5 separate regions of the Homo sapiens genome follow, and regions 1, 2, 3 and 5 are each reported to be linked to region 4. The links are microRNA targets in miRTarBase. Many come from high-throughput screens and were not tested one by one. Region 4 holds a microRNA gene; each other region holds the end of a gene's coding sequence.

What was found. The annotated mature microRNA hsa-miR-450a-1-3p reads AUUGGGAACAUUUUGCAUGUAU and lies in region 4 at 2,854-2,875, opposite strand. An mRNA with a match to its seed (bases 2 to 7 or 8) in the 3' UTR can be bound and repressed. Matches are read on the target gene's strand: a 7mer-m8 pairs with bases 2 to 8, a 7mer-A1 pairs with bases 2 to 7 and ends in A, and an 8mer does both.
Region 1: the mRNA of ADIPOQ is a reported target of hsa-miR-450a-1-3p. Seed matches in the 3' UTR shown: 7mer-A1 at 3,053-3,059 and 7mer-A1 at 537-543.
Region 2: the mRNA of PRKAB2 is a reported target of hsa-miR-450a-1-3p. Seed matches in the 3' UTR shown: 7mer-m8 at 2,959-2,965, 7mer-m8 at 2,791-2,797, 7mer-m8 at 2,429-2,435 and 7mer-m8 at 2,031-2,037.
Region 3: miRTarBase lists LY6G5B as a target of hsa-miR-450a-1-3p. Seed matches in the 3' UTR shown: 7mer-A1 at 1,460-1,466.
Region 5: miRTarBase lists SLC19A3 as a target of hsa-miR-450a-1-3p. Seed matches in the 3' UTR shown: 7mer-A1 at 3,035-3,041, 7mer-A1 at 2,663-2,669 and 7mer-A1 at 1,449-1,455.

The regions. Positions count from the first base shown.
Region 1 is chr3:186,853,639-186,858,768 of GRCh38, reverse strand. It overlaps ADIPOQ (adiponectin, C1Q and collagen domain containing), which reads right to left. Exons shown (of 3, transcript NM_004797.4): 3 at 306-4,585. The coding sequence ends at 4,065. ADIPOQ-AS1 (ADIPOQ antisense RNA 1) reads left to right here. Exons shown (of 4, transcript NR_046662.2): 2 at 2,653-4,636; 3 at 4,897-4,991. Among named protein-coding and RNA genes, the nearest start is that of ADIPOQ-AS1, 5.2 kb to the left of the region's middle.
Region 2 is chr1:147,155,345-147,160,474 of GRCh38, forward strand. It overlaps PRKAB2 (protein kinase AMP-activated non-catalytic subunit beta 2), which reads right to left. Exons shown (of 8, transcript NM_005399.5): 8 at 1-4,298. The coding sequence ends at 4,221. Among named protein-coding and RNA genes, the nearest start is that of PRKAB2, 15 kb to the right of the region's middle.
Region 3 is chr6:31,671,241-31,676,370 of GRCh38, forward strand. It overlaps LY6G5B (lymphocyte antigen 6 family member G5B), which reads left to right. Exons shown (of 3, transcript NM_021221.3): 2 at 1-44; 3 at 624-2,306. The coding sequence ends at 1,042. Among named protein-coding and RNA genes, the nearest start is that of LY6G5B, 3.8 kb to the left of the region's middle.
Region 4 is chrX:134,537,505-134,542,634 of GRCh38, forward strand. MIR450A1 (microRNA 450a-1) reads right to left here and starts at 2,927; the gene lies at 2,837-2,927. MIR450B (microRNA 450b) reads right to left here and starts at 2,758; the gene lies at 2,681-2,758. MIR450A2 (microRNA 450a-2) reads right to left here and starts at 3,103; the gene lies at 3,004-3,103. MIR542 (microRNA 542) reads right to left here and starts at 3,933; the gene lies at 3,837-3,933.
Region 5 is chr2:227,683,290-227,688,289 of GRCh38, forward strand. It overlaps SLC19A3 (solute carrier family 19 member 3), which reads right to left. Exons shown (of 6, transcript NM_025243.4): 5 at 4,877-5,000; 6 at 474-4,284. The coding sequence ends at 4,108. Among named protein-coding and RNA genes, the nearest start is that of SCYGR5, 19 kb to the left of the region's middle.

The DNA.
Region 1 (5,130 bases), not on the chromosome of region 4:
TATATAGATGTAATATATATGACAACTACAACATAAAAGAAAGTGGATAGAGGTACTAATATGATTATAAGCCTTCTACGGTTTACTGCAAGTGGCAAAATATTAACTTTATGCACACTGTGAAAAGTTAAGTACATTGTAATCCCTCAAGCAACCACTAAAAAATACCACAAAGAGATATAGGCAAATACCCAATAAATAAATTAAGATAAAATATTATGAAATATTTAAACAATCCAAAAGAATTCTGGAAAGAGAATAAAACAGAAGTGGTGAACAGCAAACAAATAAAACAGTCATCCATCTTAAATTCAACAATTTTATTAAATATAAATTGTCTAAACACCAATTAAAAGACAGATATTTTTAGACTGGATAAAAATTATACCCAACTACATGCAGTCTGTAAGAAACACATTTTAAATACAATAATATAGATATATTTAAAGTAACATGATGGAAAAAGATATACCACAAAAACACTAATCAAAAGAAAGTTGACCAGGTGTGATGGCTCATGCCTGTAATCCCAGCACTTTGGGAGGCCGAGGCGGGTGGATCACAAAGTCAGGAGTTTGAAACCAACCTGACGAATGTGGTGAAACCCCGTCTCTACGAAAAATACAAAAATTAGCTGGGCGCAGTGGCATGAGCCTGTAGTTCCAGCTACTTGGGAGGCTGAGGCAGGAGAATTGCTCATGGTAGAGGTAGCAGTGAGCCAAGATCACACCACTGAACTCCAGCCAGGGCCACAGAACGAGAGTCTGTCAAAAAAAGAGAGAGAGAGAGAGAGAGAAAGAAAAGGAGGAAGGAAGGAAGGAAAGAGAGAGAGAGAGAAAGAAAGGAAGGAAGAAAGAAAGGAAGGAAGAAAGAAAAGGAAGTTGAGTGCGTATGTTATTTTTAGACAAAGTAGACTTCAGAACACAGAAAATTATCACAGATAAAGAAGGACATTACATAATGATAAGAGAGTAAATGCACCAATAAGACATAATACTAAACATGTATATATCTAATAATAGAGCGCTAAAATATATGAAGCAAAAGCTGACAGAACTAAAGAGAATTGGACAAATCCACAATTGTACTTCAAAGCATCACAGGACCATTAATCCTGAAATCTTGACCTCAGTTTCTCTCAGGCCTCTTTTGGCCTCAGTTGACTCTCTCTGTGCCTCTGGTTCCACAAAGGAATAACCCTGCCCCAGAGAGTTTAGGGTAACTGTGAAAGCGTGTTCTGTAAGGAGCCCACCCCAACCAGATGTGAGACTGTGAGCATAGCCAGACTTTAGCTACTTGTTGAAATTTTAGAGAAAATCAATAGGAATTTTCCAGCTATGTCTCTCTGGGAAACTCATGAAAGCTCAAACACAGCATTAAGAGTTTGTTGTGGACAGGTATTATTTTGCATCTATCATCCACTCTCCTATTTCTGATAACAGTGTCCCAATTTTGCTTTAGGGAAAATACCTCTACATACCCCTAACTTAAGCTGCAATTAAGTCAATATGAATATTTCATCCTCCTGACTCAGTGATTGGTCAGAAACAGGCACACAACTCAGCCAGAGCAATGAGATGCAAGGTTACACTTGCTGGGGCATCTGGGAAAGAGAGCTTCCTCTCTCCTCTTTGGGCATCACCAGAAAACATGATGTCCATTTAGCCAGATGGTGTGGCTTGGGGATACGAGAGCTGGGCAGGCCACAGTCTTTTTGATATCGGGAGGGAAACCCTAGAACTATACTGTGTAGCACCTGAGGGTAAAGCCTACACTGCGGAAGGCAGAACAGAAGGACATACAGAAAAGGGTCTTGATTGTTTTGAGCTTTGGTTCAAACCTTATCTAAAGACAGAACAACTCTGGTAATTTCTATTATGCAAAGGAATAAATGTTTCCATTTTTCCTTTATTTTTCTTGCTTACAGTAGTTTGCATAATATTTTGGGTTTTCTGTTGTGAATGACATTCACAACACAGAGTTCTGACTAACACAAGGCTTACTCTCACCTCTTCATCCCTCTCTAAACCTCATATCTATCTTTCTCAAAAAATAACAACAAAAATGGAGGCGGGCAGATCACAAGGTCAGGAGTTCGAGACCAGCCTGGCCAATATGGTGAAACCCTGTCTTTACTAAAAATACAAAAATTAGCCTGGCATGGTGGTAGGCACCTGTGGTCCCAGCTACTCGGGAGGCTGAGGCAGAAGAATCGCTTGAACCTGGGAGGCAAAGGTTGCAGTAAGCCGAGATCATGCCACTGCACTCTAGCCTGGCAACAGAGGGAAACTCCATCTTAAAAACAACAACAACAACAAAAAGACAAAGCTTTATATGTGGAAAAAATAATACCTTAATGATTAGCAATACACATATAAGAGAGAATTGTTCAGAATTTAAAACTGTAAGCAAAAAGATAGTTTTTTAAATTTATATATTGATAGAGAATGCTATTTACTCTGTTTTTGCTAAAATCTTTGAAGAACATCACTGGAGTTATTGTCTCCTGAGAGAATGTTTACCACCATCAACTACCTCAACCTGTAATTCTTAAAGAACAATAATAAATTCAGGAGGCCCAGTCTTCCCTGACCCTGTTGGTACTCAAGGAGACAATGGCTTCAGAATTCCTCCATGGGTTTTGCATTTCAGGCTCAAGCTACCTTCTTGATGAAAAATTCTGGACGTGTTCTGAAAATCACAGTCATCCCTAACTTCAGTGGAAAAGATTCATATTGTCCAGCTGAACAAGGATTGATACTTAAAACCAGGGATTTCCTAAAATGAAAATGTTTCTGTGGATAAAACTGATTACATGCAGAGACTGGAATGGAGTTAATTCTGGGTAGATATGGGATTCAAGAGATTGGTCTTCATGAGGCATTTATCAAGGATCTGCAAGGGATTTAGAGGTGACGGAAGCACAGTCCTTCCTGGGCAGTTGCCTCTAGCCTGGTGGGAGGTGTTCCTCACACCCAGGACTCTCATCCATGGCAAAATAAAAAGTGAGATATCGACTGGGCATGGTGGCTCATGCCTGTAATCCCAGCACTTTGGGAGGTCGAGGCGGGTGGATCACCTAGGCCAGGAGTTCGAGACCAGCCTGGCCAACATGACGAAACCCCATTTCTACTAAAAATACAAAAATTAGCCATGTGTGGTGGAATGCACCTGAAGTCTCAGCTACTCGGGAGGCTGAGGCACAATAATTGCTTGGACCCAGGAGAAGGAGGCTGCAGTGAGCCGAGGTCGTGTCACTGTACTCCAGCCTGGGTGACAGAGTGAGACTCCATCTCAAAAAAAAAAAAAGTGGATATCACATCAGAGAAGCTCCTGGCCAGGTGGCCTTGAGGAACAGGGATGAGTTCGGCACTTAGAGATGGAGTTGGCTTTCCCCGTTGGAGGGAAAGGCATGAGAAGGGACATAGGTAAGAGGAAGTAGAGTAGTGCAGGGGCCATTGAGTAGTAGTCCTTCCAAGACAGGACGTCATCATAGAACCACTTTCTCTGAGGAAGCTCTGCTTGGGGGAGGTTTTAATTCATGAGGAAGGCAAATTCAATGGCTCTCAGGTGAGGTGGGAAACAGACACCTACCAACACTCCAAAGAGAACATGTACCTCTATAAAAGGGCACAGTCTAGTGAACAAAGTCCACAGCTCTGGGTTTGATTTCTAGCACTGTCACTTAATACTGTGTGACCTTAGACATTCACTTAACTCTCTCAGCCTCAGGATACAATCTGTAAAAACAGGAGAATGCTTGTTCCCTGTGCCTTATAGGATTGATATGAGCATCAGGAGAGACAGTGGGCACAAAATAGCACTGTCAACTACTTCTTTCTAGTCAGTTATCTGGTCATGTTTGTGAAGCTCCCCAGGACTGGGAACATAGCATATGATTTTTTTAAAGTTACTCGATGAATGAATGAATAAATGAATGAGTAAATGAATGAATAATATCTAAAGGCCTCCAACTAAATAATAATCAACTTCCTAACCGTACTGAAAGCCTTTAATTGACTTTGGGGCTGTTTGGCCTGGAGGAGGCTCTGAGTTAGTGGTGATCAGTTGGTGTCATGGTAGAGAAGAAAGCCTGTGAAGGTGGAGTCATTGTCATTATCAGCATAGAGTCCATTACGCTCTCCTTCCCCATACACCTGGAGCCAGACTTGGTCGCCCACCTCCAGATGCAGGAGCACAGAGCCGGAGGCCTGGTCCACATTATTTTCCTGGTACTGATCATAGGTGAAGAGCATAGCCTTGTCCTTCTTGAAGAGGCTGACCTTCACATCCTTCATATAGACTGTGATGTGGTAGGCAAAGTAGTACAGCCCAGGAATGTTGCAGTGGAATTTACCAGTGGAGCCATCATAGTGGTTTTGCTGATTGTAGAAGATCTTGGTAAAGCGAATGGGCATGTTGGGGATAGTAACGTAAGTCTCCAATCCCACACTGAATGCTGAGCGGTATACATAGGCACCTTCTCCAGGTTCTCCTTTCCTGCCTTGGATTCCCGGAAAGCCTCGGGGACCTTCAGCCCCGGGTACTCCGGTTTCACCGATGTCTCCCTTAGGACCAATAAGACCTAAGGAATGAGAAGACCTCAGTGACTACAAAGAACAGAACTCCTGCCTAGGTTGGTTACAGCCTAAATTACCATCCCTGTGGCTCCCACTCACAACCTTCTTGACTTATAGATCAAGAAACCAATAAGAGCTCCCAAAAGGAGAGAGGTGTTACCTCCTCCTTCTATATCTCCCACAGACATGGAGGCTCCCATAATTTCAACTCTATCTTTATCTCCTATAGGTCTCTATCATAGACCCTCCACCCTGCCAGCCCTTTATGTGCTGGCACCATCAACCCTGGTTTTGCAATTCTACCCCCTCCATCTAGGATGTCTCTCCTCCTCTATTCTGCCTACCCATCATTCAAGGCCTAGCTGAAGCTCTGCCTCCTCCTTGAAGCCTTCATTCTTCATCAGGTCCACGGTGAGTATATTTTCTCTATGCTCCATACTTTGAATACTTGTTCACATTCAGTTTGACATTTTTAGAGTAGACTTTCTTGTAGTAACCACCAACAGAGCCTTGCACATTAGACATCTTACCTAGATCAAGAGTTCCCCAA
Region 2 (5,130 bases), not on the chromosome of region 4:
CCTTCAAAGTAGTCTTATCTCTCCTTTCTGACAGACACAGAGCTGCACTCATTCGAAATGCTGCCGTGTAATACCAACCAACATGCTCCAATGTACCAAAATTCAAACAAGTCTCATTTATGAGACCCGTGTAGTGATTAGGACTAACCAACAACAGTGAGCTTTGGCTGTCCTAAAACCACAAGCTGGGTTAGGTAAGTGTTTTGTACAGGGGAACAGAAAAGAAGTAAGATCATCAATACCTAATATATGACTTAATGTAGGTATCCCTTGACCATTTAACCTGACACCTACAAAATCCATAGTGTTTAGTATTTCACACCAATCTTACTGCAAAAGTGCTGTGCTACATACAATCAATTCAAGTTAACTCCAACTAATATTGGAACTAATAAAAAATTAATTTGTAACAAAGCTTATTCACTTCAAAGCACAACTGAGAAAAGCAAATCCAGACAAAGCCCAAACTAGAATCCTAGAGCGATTCCATTGCTAAGAATTGGACTCTACAAGTAATAGACTTGAGTTTTTCTCTTTTTTCCCTTCTTTCTTATAATTTAAATTTGGCTTTTTACTCTAAAAGTTTGGGTTCATTGCAGAAATCACAGTCCTTCCATATCCAATTGTGATTGGCACTTAAGGAGAGACAAATGCTTAGATCCAAAGAGTTTTGAAAGACCCTAATGGCTACCCCTCCCAGGTCCTGCATTCCATGGGTAACTGGAGTCAGCAGCCCCTGGTAGAAGACAGCAAGAACTGGGCTTTAAGGGGAATCACAATAATGCAGGAATACACTGTACATCTGCTATTAAGCCCATGCCCCAAATCACTAGAACGTGAGAATGTAGAAATCTCTGAGAACACAATGTATTTCAAACACACACAGAGACTATTGCATATCATTTTTAGTTGAGGTCAAAATTATTAAAGCCCTATTTCCCCAATTAAAAGCAAGGAGTTCTATTAGTATGTCTTCTTCATTTATATCCCAGATTAATATAAACCCAGTCTAGAGGTATCACTTCTTTCCAAACTTAACTTCATTTCAGCAGCATACATGGAATATTGACACTTTTCAAAGTTTTTATCCCAGACCCATTAGATCTACAAGATACTAGAAAGAATTAGAGCAAAGTGAGTGGGCCTGGGTTTGTAGGATCCTCACAAACTTCTCTTGGATTCTTCTTTTACAAAGTTTCTCTACCATACAAACATACGTTTTAAAAGCCAACACTATTGAGGTTAGGTATGCCCTTCAGGGGTGTTGCCTAGAATGGTTAAATCCCATTCAGCTTAAAGGAGGCTAATAATCATGGTGTGGAATTTCTCCATACCAGCAGCATGGCTAACGTATGTGTTTTAGGTAATGTCTGACACTCTGGTAAAGTCTGCCTGACACATGAGCTTAAAGCAGAATGGAAAGGAAAGAGGAGAGAATTGGAACAAGATGAAAAGAGAAGATGGTTATACACTGCTAATTCTGTACAGTGAGATCCAAGGACACCACCATGTGGTGTCTGATTTAATTTCTTTTTAAAAGAGATCATTTTCAGTTGTAAGTTACTCAACCCTTTATTCTATTATTACTTCTCAGCTCAGTCACTCTTCTCTTCCCCACAATTCCGAAACTATGTTGAAGTTCTTTAAAGGTCGGCCCTCCTGAAGAACTATTTTCTTATTCTGCCTACTTTGACTCTGTAAAATTCCCAAAAGCAAAATAAAGGCTAAAAAAATTTTTTTTGCCTTTACTCATTTTCAAAATCTGTCAAACTCTCCTCAGCATTAAATTAATTATCCCTTTAACTAATCAATATACAATGATAAATGAGTAGTACTTTGGGTTACTTCCTTCTCTTCCTCCCTCTCTTCCAAATAGACTGAGATAAGGCTTCTCAGAACCATGGGATGTATCAGCAGTATAGAAAAGGGACAGTGCTGAATGAGTCAGCACCCAGTGCCTCCTACCCATTCCCTTCTATACCAGCTGGTAGGCTCCCATTTCACATCTGGGCTGAGAGTTACCTCAGAACTTGGGAAACTGACACTCTCTGCACATTTCCAGAGAGAAAGATCTGAAGATCACTAGCATCAAAACCTACTGTCACAGGGGGCTGACGCATTTCACAAAAGCCTCAGGCCTGAAAGAAATCGAAGAGATCTCTTTTCCTGCCCCACTCTACTGAAACACCTGTGTGGAGTAAAAATTTTCATACATGAACACATACATATTACATTTCAATACTGTTGACAAGAAATATAACAAACTTCATGTAATAACCAAGATTTTGAATCTTCCTAAGTGGCCCACTTATTTAATGAGTATTGGATAAAAACAAAATTCTAGTACAACTGAAGGCTGTAAATCCTGAGAGTTGGTTATAATAGGATCTGGCCTGGATTTTTAAATGGCACACCATTCAAAAAGTGGTTGGGAACATAAAAGGTTCTCCACAAAAGCCTTTTGCTGCAGAAGGTGGCCTTGGATGGCTAAAGTAGTATTTACTCTTAGCAATTAACCACCAAAGCATTTAGTTATTTGCATCCCAGCAAAACAACAATCCCACACTTTACTCCATCACACCTGGAATCCAAGAGGTCTACAAGTCCAAAGACAACTGTGTTATCAGCTTTGCATGGGAAAGACAGGAGGTAGCTAAACTGACCTGTAGGTGCCCTTTCAGTGTGGCTAGGGTCATCTGAGCAGTCAGGGAGTCTCTCATTCATCAACAGTTTAGCCTCCTTTAGTGTTGATTATTTGACTTATCTGCAAAATGGAAGAGCCCCAGCTACTTGGGAAAAAATGTTTTATCTCTGAACCCCAAAAGTGGATTGAATACTTTTCAGTCCACAAATGGAATTCAGTGACCCCACTTAATCATCAAACACCTTTAAAAAGAAGAGGCAGGAGAACAAAATGATTTTGTTAACATTTGGTGCAAAGAATGATACTTTTCATGGTTGGGAATACTAGGAATACTCTCTTGCTTCTTGGCCTAACAAATCTTTAAAATGAGGAACCCCTTTAGGTGCATCAAATGAGTTAAATGAACTTGAGCAGTTTATCTAGAGCAGTGTTTAGTGTAGTGATGTGTACAGGGTTGGCCATATTAATCTAAGAATGTGGAAGGCTAGACTAGAGAAGAAAATCTCTTTGAAGAAGCATTTATCAAAAGCCTGAAATTCTCCAATGCGGTCTCTTAAGACCAATGAAAAGGCATTTTTTAATTAAAAAAAAAATGCAGGCACATAAAAATCTTTCAAGGATGAAAGACATGAAAATACTCCCGGGTTCCACTCCTGCCTTCAGAACTGTTTACTGAGAAAGAAAAGACAGAAGCAGGGCCAGGCAAAGTGGGAAAACTTTCGGGAATTTGCCAATACAGCCTGAGCCTTGGCACCAAACTAAAACAAAAATGTAGGTGTTCTGCATTCTGCCTTTCTTATAATGCTGAAACATATTTTCTTTAGAAGTTAAAACAAACACGACAAAGTGGCCTGGGCCTGTGCTGGGCTAAAAAGGAGACCTTCTGATAGCCCTAGTGTCTGGGGTGGGTCAGGTGCCACAAAACTTTTCAAAGTCACTTACCCAATAAGTTTTGTGTTAGAGAGGGGTCAGGTATGGGATCTGAAGGAGGCTATTAAAGGAAGAATGTGAAATGAGAGGAATAAGGGTTCTTGTGGGGCATCTGGTATCATATAAACAACACAGATTGTGCCACATACTCTGGGAATATAGAGAACCCATGCAAGAAAAACTGCCCTTGCAATGAGGCAGCTGTTAAGTAGGGCAGCGGTCTAGCACAAGCCCATTCCTTGGAGAGCCAAGGTAGCAGTGATAGAATCTCCACCCAACAAGGATCCTAAGAGTTTGCTGTTCTTTCATTTTAGGAAAAATCTTCCTATATAGTTATTCCTGCAGCGCCCCCAAACAGGTCTTGGTGAAAACCCACAGGCAGAAACAATACTTCTAGCTGGGGCTAGGAGGCTTCCATTTACCTTCTTCTCATATGTATATTTTTTTTTCTTAAAATAAATTCCGTGAACTCATAAAGCTCTCATCTGCAATCAAATGCAAAAGCAGAGCATCCTACTCAGAGGCTCTGAAACACACATATCAGCCTCAAAGCAAATCAGCCTTCCAGTCTCAGGTAAGACTGGTTCAGTCCAGAAATGCAAGGGAGATGCTTCTCCTGAATCCTTAGAGGCAAGAAGGGATCCCTTCAAATGGGCTTGTATAGCAGAGTAGTAACATACTTCTTCTTGTAGCGATGGGTTGCGCTAAGGACCATCACACTGTCCTGCAAGGAAAAGAAACATACGCAGCTAATTCATTACTTCAGACAGTAGGTAGCTCTTCCCAGTCATCAGTCCTTCACAGTCACTCACTTTTAACAGAGATAGTTTGATATAAGAGCAGGAGGTCAAATAAGTTTTAGTTCCAATTCTGACTCCTATCATCATTCTACTTGTGGCCTTGGGTAATCTACTTAGTGTGTCCAAGTCTTTTTATCTCATCATTACAAAAGATAACACCTACCATTAAGGTTGCTCTGATGATTACATGAGAATATCTGACACAGTTTCTGACACATAAAAGGGCTGAAGAAATAATAGTCTCCTACCTTGCTCCCTTCCCTACTTTAAATTCTAATGTTGGGCCTAAAACTAGCAAGAAAAACAAAAAAGAACAAAATATTCTGGCATCCATTTCTAGAAGAAAGTCTTAAAGACAATGAGGAAAAAAAGAAACAATCCTTCTGAAAAACTATTTCCAAGTCCCAAAGCAGGTCTAATTTTCATTTAAAACCAGGGATGACTTCCAAAAGATCTCTCTGATTTAGAGGGAACCTAGGAATCCCTCTCTATCCTTGAACAAAGTAGATGTCAAAATCCTCTTCAGAAAGACACCCAATCCAATGGATCAATTCCAAACTGCCTAAACAATATGAGAGAATCAGGAATGGGTCAGAACCAAGCTAAGCCACAATAATCAAACACCTTCACCTGAGTCAGAACCAGTAAGAAGACAGCAAGAGGTACCATTTCCCAGGCTGTGTTGTAGACTACAGATGTACCACAGGAGGAGATGGCAAGCCTAGGCAAATTAAATGACATCCAAGGAGCAGTTAC
Region 3 (5,130 bases), not on the chromosome of region 4:
CATCAGCAGCTCATCCCTGTGCATGGTGATCACCATCTATTATGGTAAATAAGGTCCCAGGAAGGGGCTGCTGGTGGGGCAGCCAATGGCTTGGTCTTCTCTCCTCTCACAGATCAGGGCTGCTCCGGGCATGGGGTACAAGAAGAGAGGAGGGGCTGAGTGCAATGGCTCATGCCTGTAACCCTAGCACTTTGGGAGGCTGAGGCAGGTGGATCACTTAAGCTCTAGAGTTCAAGACCAGCCTAGGCAACATAGTGAGACCCTGTCTCTACAAAAAAATAGCCAGGCATGGTGGTATGCACCTGTAGTCCCAGCTACTCGGGAGGCTGAGGTGGGAGATCTCTTAAACTCAGGAGGCATAGGTTGCAGTGAGCCAAGATTGCGCCACCATGCTCCAGCCTGAGTAACAGAGCTAGACCCTGTCTCAAAAAAAACCAGAAGAATCTTGGAAGGAGGGGTCTAAGGTTCTAGGGGGCCAGCAGAGCTCACTTTTCTAGCCTCTTGAAGGACTCTGGGTTAGAAGTAAATTAGGTCTGGGTGAAGGATGGGAAAAGTCAGTAGCAGGGGTTCTTGGACTATGGGAAGCTATTGGAAGGGGTTATCAGCTTTCCCCTCTCCCTCAGATGTCAAGGTTCGCTTCATCGTTCGAGGCTGTGGACAGTACATTTCCTACCGCTGCCAAGAAAAACGCAACACCTACTTTGCAGAGTACTGGTATCAGGCCCAGTGCTGTCAGTACGATTATTGCAACTCCTGGTCAAGCCCCCAACTCCAGAGCTCTCTGCCGGAGCCCCATGACAGGCCCCTGGCCCTGCCTCTGTCTGACTCCCAGATTCAGTGGTTCTACCAGGCCCTGAACCTCTCCCTGCCCCTCCCCAATTTCCATGCTGGGACGGAGCCTGATGGCCTGGACCCCATGGTCACACTGTCCCTGAACCTGGGCTTGTCTTTTGCTGAGCTGCGCCGCATGTACTTGTTCCTCAATAGTTCAGGACTTTTGGTTCTTCCCCAGGCTGGACTCTTGACACCTCACCCTTCCTGAATTCCACAGTGCAAATATCTTTCTGTAACACCCTCAGCATCCTGCACTGCCCTCTCTGAAAACACCCACATTCTTTGGTCACTGTGATTTCTTAGGCCTCCGTCTGTTGTACCACTAGCATCTATATGACTTTTGTGTAATTTTCTCTCTTGAACTCTGGTGCTGTTTTTTTGTTTGTTTGAGACAAAGTCTCGCTCTGTCACCCAGGGTGGAGTGCAGTGGCATGATCTCTGCTCACTACAACCTCCACCTCCCGGGTTCCAGCGATTCTCCTGCCTCAGCCTCCCGAGTAGCTGGGACTACAGGCGTGCACCACCACGCCTGGCTAATTTTTTGTATTTTTAGTAGAGACGGGGTTTCACCATGTTGGTCAGGCTGGTCTCGAACTCCTGACCTCGTAATCTGCCCTCCTCGACCTCCCAAAGTGCCGGGATTACAGGTGTGAGCCACTGTGCCTGTCTGAGCTCTGGTGCTGTTCTTCCCCCTAGAAAAGAATCTCTAGTGTGGATTCTGCCCAGACAGGCTGACCTGAGAAAGGCACAGTGGTTCCTCCATTCCTTCCCCATCATCTGAGTGTTCCAGTATCCCCCATCCCTCTCAATCCAGTCACCTGCCTATTGACATCTAGCTCTGTTTCCCCTGTCTTGTCCATGTCTCTAAGACCCAGTACCAGACTGAACTAGCAGCAAGAAGGACGAGGAGGCCGGGCATGGTGGCTCACGCCGGTAATCCCAGCACTTTGGGAGGCCGAGGTGGGCGGATCACTTGAGATTGGGAGTTTGAGACCAGCCTGGCCAACATGGTAAAACCCGCTCTCTATTAAAAATAGAAAAATCAGCTGGGTGTGGTGGCACACCTCTGTAATCCCAGCTACTCAGGAGGCTGAGACAGGAGAATCACTTGAACCCGGGAGGCAGAGGTTGCAGTGAGCCGAGATCGCGCCACTGCACTCCAGCCTGGGTGACACAGTGAGACTCCGTCTCCAAAAAAAAGGATGAGGAATAGAATTCTGTGCAGATGTCCTGACTTGGCAATTTTGTGTCCCTGCCTCACTGTCTCCACCAACCCCCGCCTGTCCTAGTGTTGTTCTGCCTCCTGTCCTCTCTTGCTCTCTTGTCAGTCTCTGGCTTCCTCGGCCCCATTTCACTTCACTGAGTCCTGACACCCATCTCCCTAGGGGCCTGTGAGAGGAGAGGGAAGGGTCTGTTCTGCTCAGCTCCATGTCCCCCATTTTCCTCCACAATAAACTGGGACTGGGCTAAAACTGTGTCACATTGTTTGTGGGGTCAGGCTCAGGTGTGGGCAGGTAAACACAGATTAAAGAGGGTTAATGCCTGGCGCAGTGGCTCACGCCTGTAATCCCAGCACTTTGGGAGGCTGAGGCAGGCGGATCACCTGAGATTGGGAGTTTGAGACCAGCCTGACTAATATGGAGAAACCCCATCGCTACTAAAAATACAAAATTAGCCGGGCTTGGTAGCGCATACCTGTAATTACAGCTACTCGGGAGGCTGAGGCCGGAGAATCACTTGAACCTGGAAGGTGGAGGTGGCGATGAGCCGAGATTGCACCATTGCACTCCAGCCTGGGCAACAAGAGTGAAACTGTGTCTCAAAAAAAAAAAAAAAAAAAAGGGTTAGTGAGGTTTGGGATCCAAATAGGATTGCAGAGCCCTCTCCATTGCACTTGGCGTTTGTCGCTTCCTCTCGGCCTCCTGTAAAGGGCACACATCCCTCCCCACCCTCTGCTTAGCTGGAGATCAAAGCATGGGGACTGTGATTCTTCCCAGCCTTAAACATACCCTACAAAACCTGGAAAGTTAGACCCTGATGATGCCAGGTCTTTTCACCTAAGAAAAGAAACTTTAGGCCAGGTGCGGTGGCTCATGCTTGTAATCCCTGAACTTTGGGAGGCCGAGGTGGGTGGATCACCTGAGGTCGGGTTTGAGACCAGCCTGACCAACATGGTGAAATCTTGTCTCTACTAAATATGAAAAATTAGCTGGGCATGGTGGCTCATGCTTGTAATCCCAGCTACTTGGGAGGCTGAGGCAGGAGAATTGCTTGAACCGGGGAGGTGTAGGTTGCAGTGAGCTGAGATCACGCCATTGCACTCCAGACAGGGCAACAAGAGCGAAACTCTGTCTTAAAAAAAAAAAAAAAAGCCTGGGCGCGGTGGCTTGCCTGTAATCCCAGCACTTTGGGAGGCCGAAGCAGGCGGATCATGAGGTCAGGAGTTCGACACCAGCCTGACCAACATGGTGAAAGCCCATCTCTACTAAAAAAAAAAAAAAAAAAATTAGTTGGGCATGGTGGCACGTGTCTGTGATCCCAGCTACTCAGGAGGCTGAGGCAGGAGAATCGCTTGAACCTGGGAGGCAGAGTTTGCAGTGAGCCGAGATCGTGCCACTGTACTCCAGCCTGGGTGACAGACCGAGACTGTCTCCAAAAAAAAAAAAAAAGAAACTTTCTCTTTAAACCAGAAAGACTCAGGAACTCAGAGCCACATGCCAGAGTTACCTGCTGCTGGGGCCCTGGACTCCTGCCATTCCTTAGTTCTTTTCAAGGATTCTGGCATCCAGGATGCCCTCTCGAGGGGCCCAATTTGAGGGGCAAAGTGCTGAGAGCACTGATGTTGGGCTGCAGTGGTTGGATCTTCATGCTAATATTTTAATTTTGAAATAGTGCAAACGTATAGAAAGCAAGGATGGATACAACAGCCTTTTCCATACACTGGATAAACATGCTGGACATAACGCTGCTCTGAGTCAGGCTTGGTATTGAGCAGCAGGACTCCCAGATGAGTATAGCCAGGTGTCTGCCCTTCCAAGTCTTGCAGCCCAGTGCTTGGGTTATGAAACCTTTTTCTGAAAAGCAGTGCAGCTTTGTGGCTGGGAGGTCCAATCCCAGCCCCTCTACCACTTGGATATGTCAGTCTCTTCAGCCCCACCTTGGTCACCTGTCAAGTAGGGATAGTGCCTCAGATGATTGAGAAAACACATGTAAATGTGCATACACAAGTAGAAGTTAAGGCCTTTTCCCCCTCAAAAAAATATATTTGCCCTAGAGTCAAATGCATACACAATGTTCAGCTTTTTTTTCTAAGGTTCTTACTATGTTGCCCAAGCTGGCCTTGAACTCCTGGGCTCAAGAGATTCTTCTGCCTCAGCCTCCAAGTAGCTGGGACTACAGATGCACACCACCATGCTCACCTGGCTGATTTACTTATTTTCAAACCTTTTTGGTAAAACATTCAGAAGCTTGCACATATCACAAGATGGATTTTTGTAAACCACACATCTGTGTAACCAGCCACCAAATCAGCGTGAAGACCTTTACCTGCAGCCAAGCCTGCCTCTGTTCCCCTCTCCCAGGTGCTCTTCCCAGCTCTGGGGTAGCCGCTGTCCTGACTGGTAGTAGCTTAGATGAGTTCTGTCTGTGCTTGATGGAAATGGCATCGTACGCATCTGCTTTTACCTATATAGTGTTTTGCACACGTGTTAACAAATCTGTGTGGCCTGTACTCTGACGGAAAATACCAAACCAATGATAATTAAGTCATGAGGCAGTTGGCGTACAAAGAGAGGTACAAACCCTTAATGTGCCCCCCAACCCCCACCTTGCTAAGTCCACCCTTCTCCATGACCTCTGACGTCAGTATAAGACAGAGAAAGGCCCAGGTTTATAGCAGGTCAACCTGGAAGACACCCTCAGAGGCTGAAGAACTTGGCCCAGAATTGAAGAGACCAGGACTCCAATAAGGTCTAACATCTCTTTGAGAGTGGCCTTCTCGGCTCGGGGTGACTCACGCCTGTAATCCCAGCCCTTTGGGAGGCCAACGCAGGCAGATCACTTGAAGTCAGGAGTTCGAGACCAGCCTGGCCAACTGGTGAAACCCCGTCTCTACTAATAAAATATAAAAATTAGCCAGGTGTGGTGGCATGTGCTTGTAATCCCAGCTACTCGGGAGGCTGAGGCAGAAGAATCACTTGAACCTGGGAGGCAGAAGTTGCAATGAGCCAAGATCACACCACTGCACTCCAGCCTAGGTGACAGTGAGACTGTCTCAAAAAAAGAGTGGCCTTCTCA
Region 4 (5,130 bases):
GCTTATGTCATTACCCCCTGCCTGGAATGTCCACCCCTGTCCTCTCTGCCTCTTCTGGCCCCACCTATCTTTTTTTTTTTTTTTAAAGAGATAGGGCCTTGCTTTGTTGACTAGGCTGGAGTGCAGTGGCCATTCATAGGCATAATCATGGCGCACTGCAGCCTGGAACTCCTGGGCCCAAGTGATCCTCCTCCCTCAGCCTCTGGCGTAGCTGGGCCTACAGGTGAACACTACCATGCCCAGCCCCACCCACTTTTGCAGGTGCTCATCAAGTCCCATATCCTTCATAGAGTCTTTCCAAGTCACTCCCTGTGTCCTTTAGACCCAGTATATTACAATGGAAAAAGCCCTGAAGCTCAAGGTTCAAGTTGTAACATTGCCCAATTCTCTGCACGACCTCTCTGCAACTTATTTTCTCTCTCTGCAACTTGGTTTTCTCTTCTGTAAAATGAGGGGCTGGACTTGTGTAAAATGAGGGTTTGTACCCTGTTAACAAAGGGAAGCCCTCAGCACCTTCTGCACCTGCCCCTCCTCAACCCCTCTTGGCATACTTCCAACTCTGAGAAGCAATCTCTGTACTGGCCAAATTCTAGGACATTTCACTGGTTCAGAAATTCAGCCGGGCGCAGGGGCTCACGCCTGTAATCCCAATACTTTGGGAGGCTGAGGTGGGAGTATCGCTTGAGCCCAGGAGTTCAAGACTAGCCTGGGCGATATAGTGAGACCCTGTCTCTCTGTCTTTCTCTATATATACATATATAGAAAGAAATTCAGGGGCTGAAGATTTTTTTTTCACTGGTCAACGAAAGGGGCTTAAGATCAATGCTCAATTTGGAATGATTTCTCTCTCTCTCTCTTTCTCAGCCCTAGAGGCGAGACCTCCCATTTAGAAAGGGGTCCCTCCCACACTCTGCCCCTATTCCATACATTTTGTCCAGCAGGGACTAGAGTGAGCCCTAGGGGAAAGGAGGCCACTTAGATGGTTGCTTAGCAAAGCAGATTCTCTGTGTGGTCTGACCTGGCTCAGACGAAGGTCAAAGCCTCAGCTGATCCCTGCTCTGTACCCAGTGGCAGACAAAGTATTCGTGTGTTCAAGGCCTCTCTGGCTCAGTATCACCTTAACCTCCGCTTCTCCCCTACCCGCTCCTCTATCCACAAGTAACTAGCACAGAGGTAGGCACCCAGTAAATATGCTCTGATTGACAGAGTGTGGCAGATAAAAATGCTTATGCTCCTTAAAGAGGAGTACACACATTTAAGCATGGGGACCAGTTTGGTTGTATGATTGTATGTTCTTAAGCAGAACAAGGGCAGGGCATCAGAAAATTGGAGGAATGGTCTCCTGTATCTTTGTAAATGGATATGTGTATATATATTTGCCTCACAACTCAGCTTCTCCTTTAAGGAATATGATGGATCTATTTTGAAAGTAATGTCGGCCGGGCACGGTGGCTCACGCCTGTAATCCCAGCACTTTGGGAGGCCAAGGTGGGCAGATCACGAGATCAGGAGATCGAGACCATCCTGGCTAACACAGTGAAACCCGTCTCTACTAAAAATACAAAAAAATTAGCCAGGCAAGGTGGCGGGCACCTGTAATCCCAGCTACTTGGGAGGCTGAGGCAGGAGAATCGCTTGAACCTGGGAGGCAGAGCTTGCAGTGAGCTGAGATCGCACCATTGCACTCCAGCCAGGGTGACAGAGCCAGCCAGACTCCGTCTCAAAAAAAAAAAAAAAAAAAAGAAAGTAATGTCTAGTCATATGGACTTGCTAGAGTGCCAAATATGTCCTTGGTGGGGGAACAGTTTCCCAAAATGCTACTAAAAAGATAGGAAGGAACTTAGATCCTCCTGTAATGTGTCTCTGTCCAAATCAGTGCCACTGAGGAACGCTAAAACCTTGGTAGGTGCCCTTCAGACCATGGGCCAGGTACGTGACCAAATGGTTCCATCTCTTACCAGAACAAGGATCGCCTAAATTGAGGTGTCACATGTGTTCTGCAACACCAGAGTTACTATGGAGCTCAGCTGAATTTGCGGGAAAATGCAGGGGGGGCTTTACCCGCATCTGCAAGAAGTTGGCTGAGTGGAAATAACCTAAATAAGGTGTTTTCCTGACTTGGGCATATCTCAAACTGGCCAATGCGTCTTGAGGCCCTGGGCGAGCATCCAAGTACCACCTTCCTGAATTGCTACTAGAGGAAAAGGAGCCTGTTTCAGCTTTCTATACTTCTTTAAATGTTACTTTGATTAGACATAGATAGCAGTTTGTTTACTAATATTACTATTATAACTCTGTCGTGGTTATATTTTTTAGTTATACTTTCTCTTTTCTTTGCCAAGAGCAAATGAAAACACATTTGCACTGCAGATCCAACTGAAGTTGTACAAAGGTTTCCCAGATATGTTTGAAAAAGTATTCTAGGCCCACTGCTGGCCAAATAGGAAGTCTTCCCCCACCCTTATGTCAGGGGTTCATGCTTTAAAAAAAATACAAACTCTTTTTAAAAATAAAATGTTTTATTATTGCTATAAAAGCAATGCATTTTATTGTTTATGCAAATATTACTTGGAAAATACATAAAAGTATAAAGAGAAAAACAAACATTACCTATAATTTTATACTATAATACTGTTACAAGTTTTGGTATATTTCTTCCTAGACTTTTCTCCATATGTTGATACAAAACTATGGATGCAAAATGATCCCAATACACTTATATTACATATTCAGGAACATATTGCAAAAATAATTCTGCATCTTACATTTATCACAGAAGTAAACCACAGATAGCCGCTGTTAGATTTTTTGCTTATTCCCTCCATCTTTTCATCTGTATATTGATACAAAACTATACATGCAAAATGTTCCCAATATATTTATAGTGCATATTAGGAACACATCGCAAAAACAGTTTAGTATCGTTTTTGATTGCCTATAGTGACACAAGTCAGCGATAACCACCTCTAGACTTTTGGTATACTTCCTGATAGCCTCTTTTCCCCATATTATTGATACAAAACTATGAATGCAAAATGTCCCCAATACATTTATATTACATATTAGGAACACATCGCAAAAATAGTTTAGCATCTTTCTTTGGTCACCTTTATACCACAACTCAGAGATAATCACAATAAAGTTTTTATATGTTTCCTCCTAGCCTTTTATCTGTATGTTGATACAAAACTATTCATACAGAATGCTCCCTATATACCTATATTGCAGAGATGGGAAAATATTTTGCACCTTTTTTCAATCGCTAAATGTTTTATCAGGAGCACATTCTCATGACATGAAAATTACTTTCAGAAACATTATTTTACATGAAAGCATCCTATTCTATTGTACTAGCTAGCTACGCTGTATTTTATTTGTCTAATCCTTTGTTGTTGGTCATTCAGGATGTTCCTAACTTCCATCCTTAAAATATTGAAATGAGCATCTTTATGCATTTTTTTTAACTGGGGCTTTCTGTTCATGTAGTTTTTATGGTTTTTCTTGACCACTTGTGTGGACTCAACATACTAAAAATGACCCTGTGTCTGTAATGCTTATAGCAAAGTGTTTTCCAGTTGTTTGCTTGAGCATAAATTCTTTATTTTAGCATTCTAGCACAAGTATAAAATCATATACCTTATGTAAGTTTCAATTCATTCAACAAACATTTAAAGCAATAAAGACACAAATAAAGGCATTCCCATTACACTCCTATGAAAACACAACTCATCCTCCCACCCCATCCCATAGCAACCCCTTTCTTCTTTGCTTAGGGCCCACTTTCCTCCTGATCTTTTCATTGATTCGTCTTGTAATACTTACCACATGTTTTGCTATGAAGATGAGTGGCTCCCAGACCTTTCAGTTATCAATCTGTCACAAGTGCACACTGGTATCTCGTGACATGATGATCCCCGAGATGTCTGAGATCTGTGCATCCTTGACCGATCCCAAATTTCTGTATCACCCATGACCCCTAAAGACTTTTTAGAGAATTATATTTTGACAACATAACAAGAAAACGTGGCATCTCACACACACACACACACACACACACACACACACACACACACACACACAAAACCATGAAAAAGTAGAGAAAGAAGAAACTTCAGCTCTAATCCCACCACCCTTAAGTAACAAGTATGTCTGTTTTGCAGGTTTCCTCCAGGTTCTGCTCCTATTTTTCAATCATGGTGTCCATGTGATTTTGTGGCCCTGATTTTTTTTAAGTTGATATCATAAGCATTTTCCAGGTTTCTGTATATTCTCTATCATTATTATTTGCAATGGCTGAAAAAGGTTCCATTGAGTGAGTGACTAGATTAAGTCAACCCCTATAGCTTGACACTTCATTTGTTTCCTTAAGATAATTTGATTGAATCTACAGAAAATAACAAACATGGGACAGAGGTTTAAAATGAATTTAAATCATGCTTTTTTGGTTTGTGCAGATTGACTTGTACACGGCTGGGTAACTTATAGTCACTATTTAGTAATCCTGGGGCCAATCTTGGGCCTCACCCAGGAAGTGTCCAATGTATAGGCCAAAGCTCATCATAAGACTAGCCAGTTTCACCGGGAATTTTTGTAACCAAACACATTCACCTCCATTTCCTGCTCTGGTCACTACTGCATAGTCGGTTCTGATGAACAGGTAATGACATAAGGAACACAGTATGAGGCCTGGAGGAAGAGCCCCCAGAGAGTAGCCTCAGACAAATCCTTAACCTCCAGAGGCCCCAGTTTTCTTGTCTGTAATTATTTTTTGGACTGCCTTAACTCTGTTTGTCTTTCAAGGTTGTCACAAATTAAAAAAAGAAAAAAAAGAAAAAACAAAGTATTTGGAAAAGTATGTAAACACACGATACAAAGGCAAGATGTTGGGATACTGATGATTCTGTGGCCACGCCTTTAGAAGGTCTGGTCTTAGGGTAATAGTCTTGTCTGGATGGCAGGTGGGGGTGGACATGGGGGAACAGGTGAGGGAGCTGCCTTGGGAGACTCAGGCTTCAAAGCAACCCAGACTCTCACTGGCAGGTTGCTGCAGTGTTCTGAGCTCCCTGACTCCAGCAGTGGAGCCAAGGCCATGTTTCCAAACACCCACCAACTGCTCAGATTATAGAGCTC
Region 5 (5,000 bases), not on the chromosome of region 4:
TTACTGAGATACCAAATAAAAAATTTTAATTTAATTTTTCAATGTCAGGTCTACTTATTATTATTAATTTTTTTGAGATGGAGTCTCACTATGTTGCCCAGGGTGGTCTTAAACTCCTGGGCTCAAGCGATCCTCCCTCCTCAGCCTCCCAAAGTGGTGGGATTCCAGGAACAAGCCAAGGTGCCCAACCAGGCCCACTTATTTTTTTCTTCTGTTGTTTGTTCCTTTTAATTATAAATGCACATTTAGTAATCCATTCACATTGCCAAAAATATAAAACTATCATAATGGTTGCATGGCAAATCTCCAGCTCCTTATTCTTCAATGCGAATTTATTTCCCAAGAGGTTAAATGCTTTTTTGTAAAAGTCGTATTTTAATTTACTGGTGGGTTATTCATTTGGTGCAAGCATCAAACACCATGAGAATGTGATGTCTCCCTCCCATTTCCCATTACTCCACAGTAGGCAATCATTGGTATGAGTTTCAGTTGTTTATTTATTTGTTTGATTGTTGGTTTGTTTGTTCAAGACAGGGTCTCACTCTGTCATCAGGGCTGGAGTGCAGTGGCATGATCTCAGCTCACTGCAACCTCCACCTCCTGGGCTCAAGCGATCCTCCCTTCTCATCCCCTCAAGTAGCTGGGAGTCCAGGTGCAAGCCACCATGCCCAGCTAATTTTTGTATTTTTTGTAGAGACAGGGTTTTGCCATGTTGCCTAGGCTGGTTTTGAACTCCTGAACTCAAGCAATCCACCTACCTCAGCCTCCCAAAGTGCCAGGATTACAGGCATGAGCCACCGTGCCAGGCCTCATTTGTCTTTTTAGAAAAGTTATACGCATATATAAGCCAATACAGATATTTTTGTCCTTTTTATACAAATGCTGAGTTGCTGCGTTCATTATTATTTTGGTGCTTGACTTTTTTCCACTTGATAGTAGAGCTCTTAGAGTTCTGTGTCACTAAAGATCTTCCTCATTTTTTAGCAGTTAATTTTGTTATAGGTGAATATGTGAAGGAATCATAATGCATTTTTTAATCCACTTTGGGTCTCACTCTGTCGCTCAGGCTGGAGTGCAGTGGCACAATCTCAACTCACTGCAACCTCTGCCTCCTGGGTTTAAGTGACTCTTATGCTTCAGCCACCGAGTGGCTGGGATTACAGGCATGGACCACACCCGGCTAATTTTGTTGTTTTTAGTACATACAGGGTTTCATCATGTTGCCCAGGCTTGCCTCCAATTCCTGGCCTCATGTGATCTGACCGCCTCAGCCTCCCAAAGTGTTGGGATTACAGGCGTGAGCCACTGCACCTGGCCTCCTTTCCAATTTCTGACCTCTGATTTTTCTTGTTTGTCTAATTGTGATGCCTAATGCCTCCAGAATAATAAGTTAAAAAAGAAGGATAATAGACTGGGTGTGAGGTGGCTGAAGCCTGTAATCCCAACACTTTGGGAGACCGAGACGGGCGGATCACCTGAGACCAGGAGTTTGAAACCAGCCTGACCAACATGGTGAAACCCCGTCTCTACTAAATATACAAAAATCAGCCGGGCATGGTGGTGCACGCCTGTAATCCCAGCTACTCGGGAGGCTGAGGCAGGAGAATTGCTTGAACCCGGGAGGCGGAGGTTGCAGTGAGCTGACATTGCGTCATTGCACTCCAGCCTGGGTGACAGAGCAAGATTCTATCAAAAAAAAAAAAAAAAAAAAAAAAAGAAGAAGAAGAAAAAGAATAGCGGCCATTCCTTCCTTGCCTTTAATGTAAGTAGGAATGTTATTAGTTTTCTCCACTAAGTGAGTGCATTGATTCTTGGGCTGGATCTTAGTCCAGTGAAGAATTTCGGGATTTGGAGAGGAGTATACTTGAGAAACATATTAGTCCATTATCACATTGCTATAAAGAAACACCTGAGACTAGATAGTTTGTAAGAAAAGGGGTTTAATTAGCTCACAGGCTATATAGGAAGCGTGGCAACATCTGCTTCTAGGGAGTCCTCGGGGAATTTTTACTCATGGCAGAAGGCAAAGTGGGAGCAGGCATCTTCACGTGGCCAAAGCAGGAGAAAGAGAGAGTGGGGAGGTGCTACACACTTTTAAACTACCAGATCTCACGATAACTCACTGTCATGAGACCAGCACTGAGGGGACGGTGCCAAACCATTCATGAAGGCTTCACACCCATGATCCAGTCGCCTCCCAGCCGGCCCCACCTCTAACATTGGGGATTACACTTCAACGTGAGATTTGGTGGGGACACAGATCCAAACCATATCAAAATCCAATTAAAAATTTTTTTGTTTGTTTTAGACACAGGGTCTTGCTATATTGGCCAAGATGGTCTCATACCCCTACCCTCAAATTAACCTCTCACTTCAGCCTCCCAAAATGCTGGGATTACAGGTGTGAGCCACAGCTTCCAGCCTTAATATAAATCTTGACTCAGCATTCTTTATTCTCACTGTCAGACTGCTCAATGCATCCCTTATTGAAGTTTCTTGAAGTTTCGAAAAACAGGTATGTTCAGATAATTTTCAGCAGAATTCATCAAAAAATGTTAACAACTCTTTAAAATTTTTACACATTTTATTTAGCACAATTGCTACCATTTAAAAATCAGGTGTTTTGGCCAGGCATGGTGGCTCACGCCTGTAATCTCAGCTCTTTGGGAGGCCGAGGCAGACAGATCACCTGAAGTCAGGAGTTTGAGACCAGCCTGGCCAACATTGTGAAACCCCATCTCCACTAAAAATACAAAAATTAGCCAGGCGTGGTGGTGTGCACCCATAGTCCCAGCTACTTGGGAGGCTGAGGTAGGAGAATGGCTTGAACTCAGGAGGTGAAGTTTGCAGTGAGCCAAGATCACGCCATTGCATTCCAGCCTGGGTGAGAGAGCGAGACTGTCTCAAAAACCAAAACAAAACAAAATCAGGTGTTTTATTCCACTCCCCCCATCAGTGTTTTCTTATTTCTAATACTTCTAGAAACCTCCTTTAAGTTTTCCTATTTTAGACAGACACCACACAGGTGCTCTTTTTTGGGAGGAGGGGGATGAGAGTCTTACTCTGTTGCCCAGGCTGGAGTGCAATGGTGCAATCATAGCTCACTGTAGCCTCTGACTCCTGTGCTCAACCCATCCTCCCACCATGGCCTCCCAAGTAGCTGAGACTACAGGCACACACCACGCTGCCCAGCTAATTTTTTAATTTTTTAGTAGAGTCAGGTGTCACTGTGTTGCCCAGGCTGGTCTTGAACCTCTGGCCTCAAGCAAAACTCCCACCTTGGCCTCCCAAATTGCTCGGATTACAGGAGTGAGCCACTGCACCTGGCCCATAGATGCATTAACACCTGTCTATGGTGGTGGAGAGAAGGCTCACTGCCTCTCCCAGGCCACTGGGAAATGACCTTGTGTATTCTGCAAATACACAAGAGGATCTGAAGCTATTCTTGAGGGAGACTTTCAACAGCAAAACTCAGAGCACAAAATGGAAAATAATCATAAAAAAATTAAATAATAATACTATCAAATCATAACGTGAATAATGCTGTTATTAGAGTTGAAGAGAAGCCCTTAGAAATGGGACAAACATTGTAATTCTCTTAGAGAACTGTAACTTAAACAGAAATACACTTAATAGAAGAGGAAAGAAAATGGTTCATGTGACACAAAGGTCCCATGTGTTGACTTCTTTGGTAAGATCAAATAAGTATTTAAGCCTAGCAATAGGGTCAGTCCAGTTAGTATTTCTCCTCACAAATGGTGAATATCAACTCCAGGATGGCTGGAGTTTTCTCATGGTTTGGTTCCACGCCATCTGCATGTCTTTACAAGTGATAAAAACCAGAATTTTCCAGCTGCTACTAGTCACAGGGGGTCCCCAATATGGGTTGTTTAATTATGATGACGGGTCCTGTCAATTGCATCCAGTAAAATTGGTCACATAGAGAACTCATCTAAAACTGAGGTTTTGTTGTGGTTTTGAAAGGTCCATTGGAATCCAGATTTGCAAAGCATGTCAAGTTATGGCAAAACATATGCCACCCATCTCAAAATCTTTCCTTATTATTGCATAACTTTGAAAGCCACTGTTGCGTTTGTTGCGATGAGGTTAGAGTTTTGTTGACATGATGATATTACTCTCTTCCTCTGGGTGAGACACATCTGGATTCTCACTTGGAGCAGGGCTCTGTACATCCTTCTGGGATTTGGTTGAGTAGGTAATATACATGCTTCTCATTAGGAAAATTCCAGCAATTACTGCAAAATAGCTCCCATAAACTAAAAACTGGAGAAAAACAAATAATTAGCCACATATAAAATATGACCATCTATGTCAATGATAATACATCCTAATACTGTTGGTTTGCTTGGATTATGGGGTAACTGAGACCCAGGTTTTTAATATGGGTCATTTAGGTTGAACAATACTCTCCTATCAAGTAAGAAATCAAGATCAAGTAAGAAGGTGTAAGCAATACGGTGACTAAGAGTCTTGGCTTTAGAGCAGGTTGCTTGGGTTAAAATCATAGTTACTATCATCAATAGTAAAAAACAAAACAAAACAAACCCAAAAAAACACTAAAACTCATTGACCTGTCTCTATGTCTTTGTTTGGAGGCTGGTGCAATGCTACATTCAATGTCTCCAAGAATAAATTTAAGCATTGAGGTTACTTCTTACCTGCCTTATCCATGTAAATGTTGTCCTAGTTGCAATTATTGCTCAAAACCTACTTGGTGTGTTATAATATGATAATGAAGGAATTATGTATTTTTTAATTGCTTAACCAAGGAACTCAAGAAATTTAAATATTGCTTGTTGTAAGGTTGAGAAATTTTTGAGGTTACCTAGTTGAAAACAGAAGTATTGCAGCTTACCTGAATGCTGACTGGCAAGTTGAGCCCTCTCTGATCTACTACAATCACAGTCATGATGGTCTGAATCACCAAGGCAATAAAGGTGTTGATTCCAAATACCAAGGCATAGCGTTCCACATTCAGA